Linked DNA regions of Homo sapiens. The protein of the gene in region 3 purifies or fractionates together with the protein of the main gene of each other region. This does not show direct contact. Each region holds a gene or a part of one and is shown on either strand. Other genes may lie near its edges. The genes, in order: CAPRIN1, CLPX and DNAJA3.

What was found.
Region 1: the proteins of DNAJA3 (region 3) and CAPRIN1 purify together in Homo sapiens (affinity purification with mass spectrometry, with the first as the bait; one large-scale study listed by BioGRID). This does not show direct contact.
Region 2: the proteins of DNAJA3 (region 3) and CLPX purify together in Homo sapiens (affinity purification with mass spectrometry, with the first as the bait; one large-scale study listed by BioGRID). This does not show direct contact.

Annotation. Positions count from the first base shown.
Region 1 is NC_000011.10:34,089,687-34,093,338, reverse strand, and holds part of CAPRIN1 (caprin-1), read right to left. Parts: intron 3,161-3,652; coding exon 3,050-3,160; intron 2,811-3,049; coding exon 2,661-2,810; intron 1,434-2,660; coding exon 1,283-1,433; intron 1-1,282. UniProt on the Homo sapiens protein: mRNA-binding protein that acts as a regulator of mRNAs transport, translation and/or stability, and which is involved in neurogenesis, synaptic plasticity in neurons and cell proliferation and migration in multiple cell types.
Region 2 is NC_000015.10:65,147,567-65,151,030, reverse strand, and holds the end of CLPX (ATP-dependent clpX-like chaperone, mitochondrial precursor), read left to right. Parts: intron 1-117; coding exon 118-208; 3' UTR 209-2,812; downstream 2,813-3,464. UniProt on the Homo sapiens protein: ATP-dependent chaperone that functions as an unfoldase.
Region 3 is NC_000016.10:4,453,251-4,456,902, reverse strand, and holds the end of DNAJA3 (dnaJ homolog subfamily A member 3, mitochondrial), read right to left. Parts: intron 2,093-3,652; coding exon 1,989-2,092; 3' UTR 1,976-1,988; exon of another isoform or gene 1,975-1,975; intron 1,358-1,974; coding exon of another isoform or gene 1,335-1,357; 3' UTR 128-1,334; downstream 1-127. UniProt on the Homo sapiens protein: Modulates apoptotic signal transduction or effector structures within the mitochondrial matrix. Affect cytochrome C release from the mitochondria and caspase 3 activation, but not caspase 8 activation.

The DNA.
Region 1 (3,652 bases), on a different chromosome or scaffold from region 3:
GCAGTCCAAGCTACTTGTGGGGAGTTAAAGGCTCCAGTACAGGATTTGAGCCCCAGAGTTAAAGGCTCCAGTATCTGATTACACCACTGCACTCCAACCTGGGCAACAGACAGAGACCCCATTTCTTAAAAAAATATATATATAAAAAAAAATCTAAAGTATCTCTATCGAGCTAGACAAGGTAGTTCATGCCCATAATCCCACCACTCTGGGAGACAGAGACAATAAGTTCGCTCAAGGCAAGGAGTTGGAGATCAGCCTGGCATCATAGTGAGCTCCTGGAGACCCTATCTCTACAAAAAAAAAAAAAAAATTAGCCAGCCATGGCGGTAAGCACCTGTAGTCCCAACTACCAACTACTCAGGAGGCTGAGGGAGGAGGATCATTGAGCCCAGGAGTTTGAGGCTGCAGTGAGTTATGCTGGCATCACTGCACTCCAGCCCGGGCAACAAAGTGAGAACCTGTCTCAAATACATAAAAGCGTCCCTACCTACATTACTATCGTGACAGGTATGGTAACTAGCCAAATTATGACCTTACTTGACAAAATAGATTATGTTTCAACCCAGTCCACGAAATGCAGCCACCATGAGTTTTTTCTTAACTTTGTCTAACTGACTCAATGCCAGATATCATGCTAAAAGCCTTCAATCAATTAACAATTAAAAGTATAGTTTATCACCAGGTGCAATGGCTCACGCCTTTAATTCCAGCACTTTGGGAGGCTGAGGTGGGCAGATCACGTGAGCTCAGAAGTTCAAGACAAGCCTGGGCAACATGGTGAAACCCCAACTTTACCAAAAATACAAAAAATTAGCTGGACGTGGTGGCACATGCGTGTATTCCCAAGCTACTTGGGAGGCTGAGGTAGGGAGGATTGCTTGTGTCCAGGAGGCAGAGGTTGCAGTAAGCCGAGATCACGGCACTGCGCTCCAGCCTGGGTGACAGAGTGAGACCCCATCTCAAAAAAAAAAAAAAAAGTACACTTTATGGTAATTCAAGTAACAAATTTAATTCCATATAAATTATACAATGCAACAGGGATATTATGTAAGTTCAGTGACAAAAGGAAAATGGCTATAAAGCCTCCAAAAATTGCACATAATTCACATATACAAGTACAGACTCAATTTAACTCATGATCTGAAATGAAAAATTCATATGGTCTGCTACTAAAACAGAAACTCTTGGACACCACCACTCTGAAGTCTAAACTGTCCTAACACTGTCAATAACTGTGCTGGAAAGCAAGGAGCCAATGAGGTGACACTGGATTTCGTACCTGTTTGAAGCTGTTCTTGCTGAAGCTCTGTTTGTTCTACTTGGTGAGGCTGACTAGAAAAGCTCTGGTTATAACTGGCCTGGTACTGATTTTGCTGTTTTAAAGTTTCTGGTTCATTAACAGGAGGAACTGGGGCATTCATATTGAACACCTGTTAGTAAATAAAGTAAATGATTAGTTCATCCTTTTATTCTCTGGTTTATAACATGGCCAAACTCAATGGTGGTTTTACCTCAGACATAAATAAAGACATCACAGAGGTCTCAAACACAAAAACATCACACACACATACAAAAATCCCTCCAAGTGATTCAATGTGGAAAAAGACATATATACCATATAGTACTTAAAGGGGAGTATAATATGCTGTGAAATGGAAGTAGGGAATTAAAAAAAATAAAAAGACATGCAATCAGCAGCCTTGGAAATGCTTTTACATATATGAGAAATCTTTTTAAAAGACAAACTCTGGCCTGGCACAGTGGCTCACACCTGTAATCCCAGCACTTTGGGAGGCTGAGGCAGGCAGATCATCTGAAGCCAAAAGTTCAAGACCAGCCTGGCCAACATGGTGAAACCCCGTCTCTACTAAAAATACAAAAATTAGCTGGGCATGGTGGCTTATGCCTGGAGTGTCAGCTACTCCAAAGGCTGAGGCATGAGAATCGCTTGAACCCAGGAGGCGGATATTGCAGTGAGCTGAGATCACGCCACTACACTCCAGCCTGGGCGACGGAGCAAGACTTTGTCTCAAAAAATAAATAAATAAGACAAACTCCTGGATGCAGTACCACTTACAGAAGTTTGTTCTATGAACTTTAACAGGGTTGAATGTTTTTTCATTTTTATTAACATATTAATCAAAAGTTATTTTAATATTTAATCTTATGAACTTTCCTCTCAGCACCGATTTAGCTGCACCCCACAGATTATAGTATTATTATTATTTTCTAGAAATTCTCTAAAGGTGCTTGCTCAAGAATCAAGGTAAAGCATAACATCTGAAACTTCAAAATACTTCAGTAAAATAAAAGATTAAGCAAACAGGGCAACTATTAAATCTAGGTAATGATTATATGGATGTTATATTAGTCTATTTCTCTGAATGTTTAAGCTTTTGTTAATCAAATCAAAAGGGTAAAACTACAAATTAAGATGATACAGGCACATCACTCATAAGGCTAAAATTTATCTCTAGAATATCCGTTAGTATCAGTTAATCTCTGGAATAATCAGTTTATGTTCAATTAAATATACCCTACAGTTAATGAAAGATGCAGACTCAAGCACAGTTAAATGAAGACCTTTAAAAAAGAAAAGAAAATCTACCATGATTCATATTACATACTAGGCAATTAATGTTAGTTAATTTGCTTACCGTTTGCATGGATTGGAATGGAGCTGCATTTACATTGATTCCACTGCTATGTAAAGGTTTGCTTGTCCCAGCCTGAAATACTTGAGGCTGAGACGCAGCAGGAAGGGATGATGATGCTGTAGTCTGGTCTGTATTTAAAGAGATTGTTGCCTAAACACAAAGTGAATAGATGCACTTTAGCGGTAAACTAAACTTAGCCAAACAAAAAGTGAACAGATGTACTAAAGTGGTAAATTAATCTCAAACTTATATGTATTAACAAACTCAAATATTTCATGAAAGCAAAGTAGGTCCAAAAAGAAGAATCATTATATTAATGGTAATGTACATCTGTTCAATTCATGAGTAAGTGCCTCATCAAATGTATGTGACCCGGTAACAGAACTTGCCTGAATCTGATCAATTGGTTCCTTCTGTGGTCGTTGCTCTGTAGCATGAGAAGGCTGGTACAAGGGTTGAGATGCTGTGTACCCCTCACTTGTGGATGATACCAAAGGAACCTAGACATAAGTAAAGAAATAAAAGCTTCTTCCTGCTTACAAAATTGACTGTTAAAAAAACAAGTTACCTCTAAGACGCATAAGGCTAAGAAATAGATACAACTGCTAAAGAAGGGAGAAATTAATATTACCATCTCTCTTTAAATTTGTATAATATAAAACCTAAAAATTGCAAAAATATATATATTTTTGAAGCTCGACGTTAAATAAACCCAAGTCTCGTTATAAAAGCCCTCCACAAGTACTTCTAAGATGGAGAAATCTGCACTAAATTTTAGAATTATGTCTAAACTATGTCTTCTGAAATTCTCAGTTCTAAATAAAAAAGGCTTATTATATTATAATACATTATTTAAAATGCAAGACTTAAGAAAAACTTAAAAAGTCATCAAGAGGAAAAATGAACCTAAACATAAAAATAAAGGCTGACAGCTATCCACAACAATAAATTTGCTGAATTCCAACAGAAGACTTGGACACTGATGAAATTCT
Region 2 (3,464 bases), on a different chromosome or scaffold from region 3:
ATTTTCTATTATCGTGGCTTTCTTAGCTAGGAGAGGTTACTTTGCTGTTTTGATTTTAAAGATCATGTTTACCTCCATTTTTTATTTTAAAAAAACAAACATGGCTTTTCATTGTAGGGCTCCAACAAAAGAATCCTCTGAAGAGGAGTATGACTCTGGAGTTGAAGAAGAAGGATGGCCCCGCCAAGCAGATGCTGCAAACAGCTAAACTGTCATATTGCTGTCTTGTATATACAGCTTTTCCTTCTTTTGTTTAGGATCATAATTGTCTCTACAGTCTGATATTAAAGGCATTGGATCTATCTTGGATATCATACATGGTCAGAGAAGCCTTTAGGAGAAGAATCAGATCATGTATATAATTGTAACATCACATTGATTTTACGGAAGATGTTATATGGACTTTAATGACACAATGTTTAGAGATAAAATGTACATTATTTTGGTTCAGTTTTTTAAAAAAAATATGCTTTAACAAAATTCTTAGGAATTCTTTTAAGCAATGCAGGTATTGCGATAACTGTAGATTTTACAATAATGTTACTCTACAAATGGGAAAATAAATTCTTTAAAATTGAATATTGAGATACCATTCTTTAGTGTTACCTTTTTTACCCACATGTGTTTCTGAAAATATTGGAATTTTATTCATCTTAAAAATTGGACCAGGTAGGCCGGGCGTGGTGGCTCACGCCTGTAATCCCAGCACTTTGGGAGGCCAAGGCGGGTGGATCACGAGGTCAGGAGTTCAAGACCAGCCTGGCCAAGATGGTGAAACCCCATCTCTACTAAAAATATGAAAAATTAGCTGGGTGCCGTGGCAGGTGCCTGTAATCCCAGCTACTCGGGAGGCTGAGGCAGGAGAATCGCTTGAACTCGGAGGGCAGAGTTTACAGTGAGCTGAGGTTGTGCCACTGCACTCCAGCCTGGGCGACAAAGTGAGACTCCGTCTCAGGGCGAAAACAAAAAATTGGACCAGGTAGTTTTCAAGTAGTTAAACATTTCATTGAAAAATACCCTGAAGAACTATATTTTGATAATTGGTTTAGCTGTATTCCTAGTCTTATCTGCTAATGCATGACACTAACTTCCCAATTGGTTCTGTAAAAAAGGCCATTTTCTTACCAAGTTGTCTGATTTATTTACCATCTTTTTTTTTTTTTTTTTTTTAATTGAGCGGAGTCTCACGCTGTCCCAAGCTGAAGTGCAGTGGTGCGATCTTGGCTCACTGCAACCTCCGCCTCCCAGGTTCAAGCAATTTTCCTGCCTCAGCCTTCCAAGTAGCTGGGATTATAGGCACGCACCACCACACCTGGCTAATTTTTGTATTTTTAGTAGAGACAGGGTTTCACCCTGTTGGCCAGGCTAGTCTGTAACTCCTGACCTTGTGATCTGCTGGCCTCAGCCTCCCAAAGTGCTGGGATTGCAGGCGTAAGCCACCACACCCGGCCTTATTTACCATCTTTAATCCATTTTAGTACTATGGGTGAGTACATGGAATTGAAGTCTGGCTTAAATCTTCAGAAAGTTATATATCTATTTTATTTTATTTTTTTGAGACAGAGTCTCGCTGTGTCACCCAGGCTGGAGTACAGTGCCACAATCTTGGCTCACTGCAACCTCTGAGTCCCAGGTTCAAGCGATACTCATGCCTCAGCCTCCTGAGTAGCTGGGACTACAGGCGTGCACCACCACACCTGGCTAATTTTTTGTATTTTTAGTAGAGACGGGGTTTCGCCATGTTGCCCAGGCTGGTCTCTCCTGAGCTCAGGCAATCGGCCACCTTGGCCTCTGAAAGTGCTAGAATTACGGGCATGAGCCACCGCATCCAGCCAGAAAGATACATATCTAATTCTAGAAATAGCATGCAGTATCAGTCATAGTAACAGCCATGTGCTGACCTAAATAAAATTTCTTGATATTGTGTATTTAACCTGAAGTATTGAGCTAGTTTTTTTGTTTTGTTTTTTGGTGCTGAACATTTTGGTCTAATTCTTTGGCTTCTTAGAACATTTTAAAAAATCTATGTTTTGCTATCAGCCAAAGTAAATGTGTTCACACTAACATATAAGTTACTAACCTTCATTATACAGCAAAGCTAAAAAGTGGTGGGATATTTGGGGTCTTAATGAAAATTGTATCATTTAATTCCATAAATATTAAAATATTTGGGTACCTTTTAAGCTTTTTTTCTTTCCTTCTATAATGGTGGTACAAGTTCTATATTCATTCAGTTTAATCTCATTTGAAATTGTTTAAATCAGAGTACATGTAAATATTTGTGGGTTTTTTTTTTTGGTTTATAGACTCGAGCTTTCCTTTTACACAGTTTTTTTTAGGGAAAAACTAAAGCTATTAGGAAATTCTAAATCTTGTTGATGAAGAGTTGGGCTTTCTTTGATATAATTAATAAAAGGGATGTATGGTATTTATGGCTGGGTAGGACCAGAAATGCACTTTGTATTACAGAGTGTTAAGGCTGGTTGCTATAGTATGGAACAGAAACACCTCTCCTTGGTCTCCCTAGTAATGGTTCAAGTTCTTCCCAGGAAGTCTTACATATTATAACTTTGTTCATTATCTTTCCCTTATAGCATCATTTTCCTTTTTGTAGAGTGGAAATCAGACTAGCTGCTAAACATATTAAGGTTAATCCTCCAGAAATGTACTGGGGAGGCATTTTAGTCACAACAACTTACATTTGGCTTTGGAAGTTGTTAACAAAGCATAGTCGATGTTTTTAAATCAAACATAATTTGTATCTTGGAACTTACATTTTGACATTTGAATAAAACAAAAAGACTAAATGAAAGCCAACGTGGTGGTGTGTCCATACAGCAATGGTGCAGGAGCACTCTGCATTGACAACAACAAGCACAGCCAAACAGTGCCATTTTTAAAAGGGCACAGATGTCATATGAGCTGCTTCATTCTAGGGATTGATTAATCCTTGGCACTTCCATATCAGATAAATTCTAGCTGTAGATTCCACAGACAATGTCTGTTAAACATTTATCAAAAATCCTTACTTAAATGTCCCGCTTGACACTAGGGACACAGGCCAAGTTTTTCAGGAATCTTACTAGTCTTGTAGGGGAAACAAATACAAACTAAAGTGTATTTTAATAGTGGAAGTGAGATAGGTACCAGGTGTGGTGACATAGAAAGTGATGGCCTAGATAAGTCTGGAAGAACAAGTAGAAATTTGCCAGAAAAGAATAATGAGAACTAAATCAAAATCTCAGAAGTGTAAAACAACAACTAGGAAGCTGTAGGAGGTAAGAAATAAGCAACAACTGTAACTTCTTGTTAATACTCTGAAATGACCATTTAATATTCTCCTCTCCATCTAGCTAAGGATCTTGCTTCACATTTCATTGAAAAACCATTGATGGAATTCATCATCCCACCATCTATAAATCTATCTACTCCATCACTCAACCTTTCTCTCTAGTTACAACTGA
Region 3 (3,652 bases):
AGACCCATCTGCCTCTATGTGCTCTGGGTGGCTGTGAGCACAGGATGAGGCCAGCCAAGTCTCCTGTAACCCCCATAAGCCACCTGCAGAGGCTGTCTGAATTCTTTCAAAGAAGAAATGACCACAATTTAGGTTTGAAATATCTTTTTGCAATAGATAATCTTATTTACATTAATACAGAATCATTTTACATTCCTAAATCAGACACTAATAGATGCTTTATTTTAGTGAATTATAAAGGAAAACAAAAAGGAAACTGTTGAGAAGTGTTCTTCATTAACCTGTCTAACGACAGCCCGAAGATCCTGAAACACATGGAAACTGCGACATGCTACCAGCAGAGGCTGGGGAATGGGGGTTCTGCTCTCACTGAATGGTGGGGAACCTTCAACTGCTTAGCCTGTGCTTTCCTTTTCTGAATCAACATTTACAAAGGAAAAAACAATGATTAGCACTGAATAATTTAAACACACTTCAGAAAATAGATGTCAACAGTGTAAGTGGGAGAACCAAGCCCCTGACTAGCAACAGTGGCAGGGCTTCAGTTCCCAAGGCAGCTGAAGTCTGGCCAGCACAGTGCTGCAATGGGCTGTGGCTCAGCAGAAGGGCAGGAGCCCTCCATGCCTGGCTTACAACAACAGGACTCAATAGTCAGGGACAGGCGGCCATCCCGGATGGGGTGGGAGCAAGGACTGTACATCCTGACAAGGATCACCACCCACACGGTCAGAGCAGAACCCCCAGGGACTCTCTGGGCCTCTACGTGCCTCCCAGGCACCGACTGTGCAGCTGCTTGGTACCCCGGGAATAAAAACTAACTGAGCAGAGCAGCTGATGCCTCGGCAGGGCCCCTCATTAGGGGAGGACGGTGCTGGTGGGGCCTGGGGGCCCCACGCTCCCAGTGAAGACAACCTGTCAGGAAGAACTCATTCTGGAACCTCCCGGAGGTTTGCTGAGAAGGAAATTAATCACTTCGTAACTTGATGCAGCTTAAGGCTTCATTTCTAAGCTGTAAGCATGGCCTTTAACTAAGATATCCACAATATTCAATTCCAAATTAGAGTTTTAGCCCTGCAAGAGTCTAACCATCTCCCTCTGCCTGAGCCAGGGGCCGTCACCTACCAATGGACAGGAAACTGCCACCAGCCTCTGGGGCTGCATCCTACTGCCCGGGCTGTCCACTGTGACCTTTCCGTGGAGAGAGGTGTTGTCCCATGATTTTGCTGTTGCCAAGGCCGTCCAGAGGCTCTGCGGGTGGGAGCTCAGTGCTGCTGTTCTGGAATCCTCCCGTCTCCCAGGTGCCCTGGCCCTTGGAGGGGCTGCTGCTTCCCGGCCTAGTTTCCAGTGGATCTTTTTCCTGAGCCAAAGAGATAGGCTGTTACCTTATACTCAACATTTCAAGGGAACACACCCCTGTGGGGAGCGTCTGTTAATCCCTGGAAAGCAGCTGTGCCAAGAGAGGGGCGAGAACCCCACTTGCTGAGATGAGCATAATAAACCAAAGTGGGTCCCAAGATGACACGGCGAGCAAGCGCTACCCCTGGAGCAGCCCCCAGGCTTGCACAGCCCTGCGCTGTCCACGCAGGAGGGCAGCTTCCAAGCAGGCAGGACGTGAGGAGATCTGAGTTCTAGGCCTGGCTCTGCCTGACTCGCCCTCTGTGACCATGGGCAAGCCGGACCCACCACTGCAGGGGGGCTGTACAACAGCCCCAGCATCGCCACCTCCCCAGGAAGAAGACACAGCCAGAGGCTGGCCGCGGCAGCCCAGCCAGTCCTGCACTACAGGCTGATTGCCACGTCATCTATTCCCTAGGCTGAGAGGCCAGCTCCTAGTGGAGCTAGGTTTACCACACCTTGGACTGGCACCTGTTCCAACTCCTGGGGGTGGGGGCACAATATTGGTTAAAGTGGGAGAAAACCAGGATTAGTTCACAGAGGAAAACAAAGGGAAAAAAAACCTCCAGGGTTTTCCTACCTCGGCTGGGATATCATGAGGTAAACATTTTCTTAAGTTTGGAAAGGAATCCCTCCTCGTCCTCCCCAGCCTCACGCCTAGCCTTGCTTCCTGCGGAGCTATCCATGGTGCTGCCACCTGGGCACAAACAGCAGAAAGAACTGGCGTCATGGGCCTGCACTTCCACAGTCACATCCCAGGGCCCACCTACCCCCGCCTGGCCACCCAGGGGCCCACGTTCAAGAAGCGGCCAAGTGCCACCTCAAGAAGAGTGGGGGCCACTCCTAAGATGGCACAGGATGCCTCACCTTGCAGACGACTGAGGTGAACAGGCCACTCAGAGCCTGAGGGTCTCCCAACTGCTCTTTCAATCAAGGACCCACAGCAGGGAAACAAGAAATAGAGACGGACTATGACAGCTGTCTCTATCTGAGCAACAGTGACAAAAACACAGTCAAGTGCCAGGCACCTCCCAGGCCAGGCCATACACTTCCTTACAGGCAAATTTCACAGATGAAAAAACAAAAAAAGGAGGCACAGAGAGGTTACAGGGTTTACCCAAGGCCACAGAGCCAACAAGCGGGAGGGAGGACTGAGTGCGAGCCCATGCAGTCTGACTCCAAAGCTGAGACTCAACCACCATGCTGTTGGCTATAAGAAGGTAAATAATGACTGCCAAGAAAAACCCTACTCTAGACCAACTGGCCAGATTCCATGCTGCTGTGTGCGCAAAGACCCTGCAGAACAGCCCATGTGGGAGTCACGGCCACGCACAATCCTTTGTCACAGGCACTCCATCTCATCCCTCACATCAGCAGTCTATCTCCCTGAGCAAGTTGTCCCCATTTGGGGCACCTAACCTAAATGCTCTCAACCTAGGGAAGCTGTGCTGCAATTTCTTTAGGGCCCAGGCTGACACCATCTAGAGGTACTTTCTCACACAAACGTGTTACAGATTTGCCAACTACTAGACAAGGAGTGCACACTTTTGTTGTGAGTTAGAATATAGACCTGAACTTGGCATGTTAATTGTAGAGCTCATTTTTAATGTGCTCAGAGACCTAGGCCACGCACAGTGCATAAAAGAGTAAAGGCCTCAGTCTAAGTAAGAAGGTGCCTTCGCTAGTGAAAGGTCCAAAGTTTGGGGCCACAGGTCCCCGGGAAGGGGTGAGGGAGGCTACATAAAACAGAGTGAGACCCAGTCTCAAAAAAGAAAAGGCCGGGCACAGTGGCTCACGCCTGTAATCCCCGCACTTTGGGAGGCCAAGGCAGGCGGATTGCCTGAGCTCAGGAGTTCGAGACCGGCCTCGAACATGGTGAAACCCATCTCTACTAAAATACAAAAAATTAGCCAGGGGCGGCATGCACCTGTAGTCCCAGCTACTCGGGAGGCTGAGGCAGAATTGGTTGAACCCAAGAGGCAGAGTGCGTTGCAGTGAGCCGAGATCACGCCACTGCACTCCGGCCCGGGTGACAGAGTGAGACTCCGTCTCCAAAAAAAGAAAAAAAAAAAAAGAACAACAAGGAGCCATACTGTGTCTCTCACTCAAAAAGTCACATAGTAATTGCAAGCCCCCCCAGTTCCCTCTCTGTTCGCCAGAAGATGGACCTGTTTATCCCTGCAAGTGCTGAGTCTCTAAGCACACCATGGTCTTTCTGGGAGACCGGGGTCAGCTCTTAAGGTTTTCAGCAGCTACA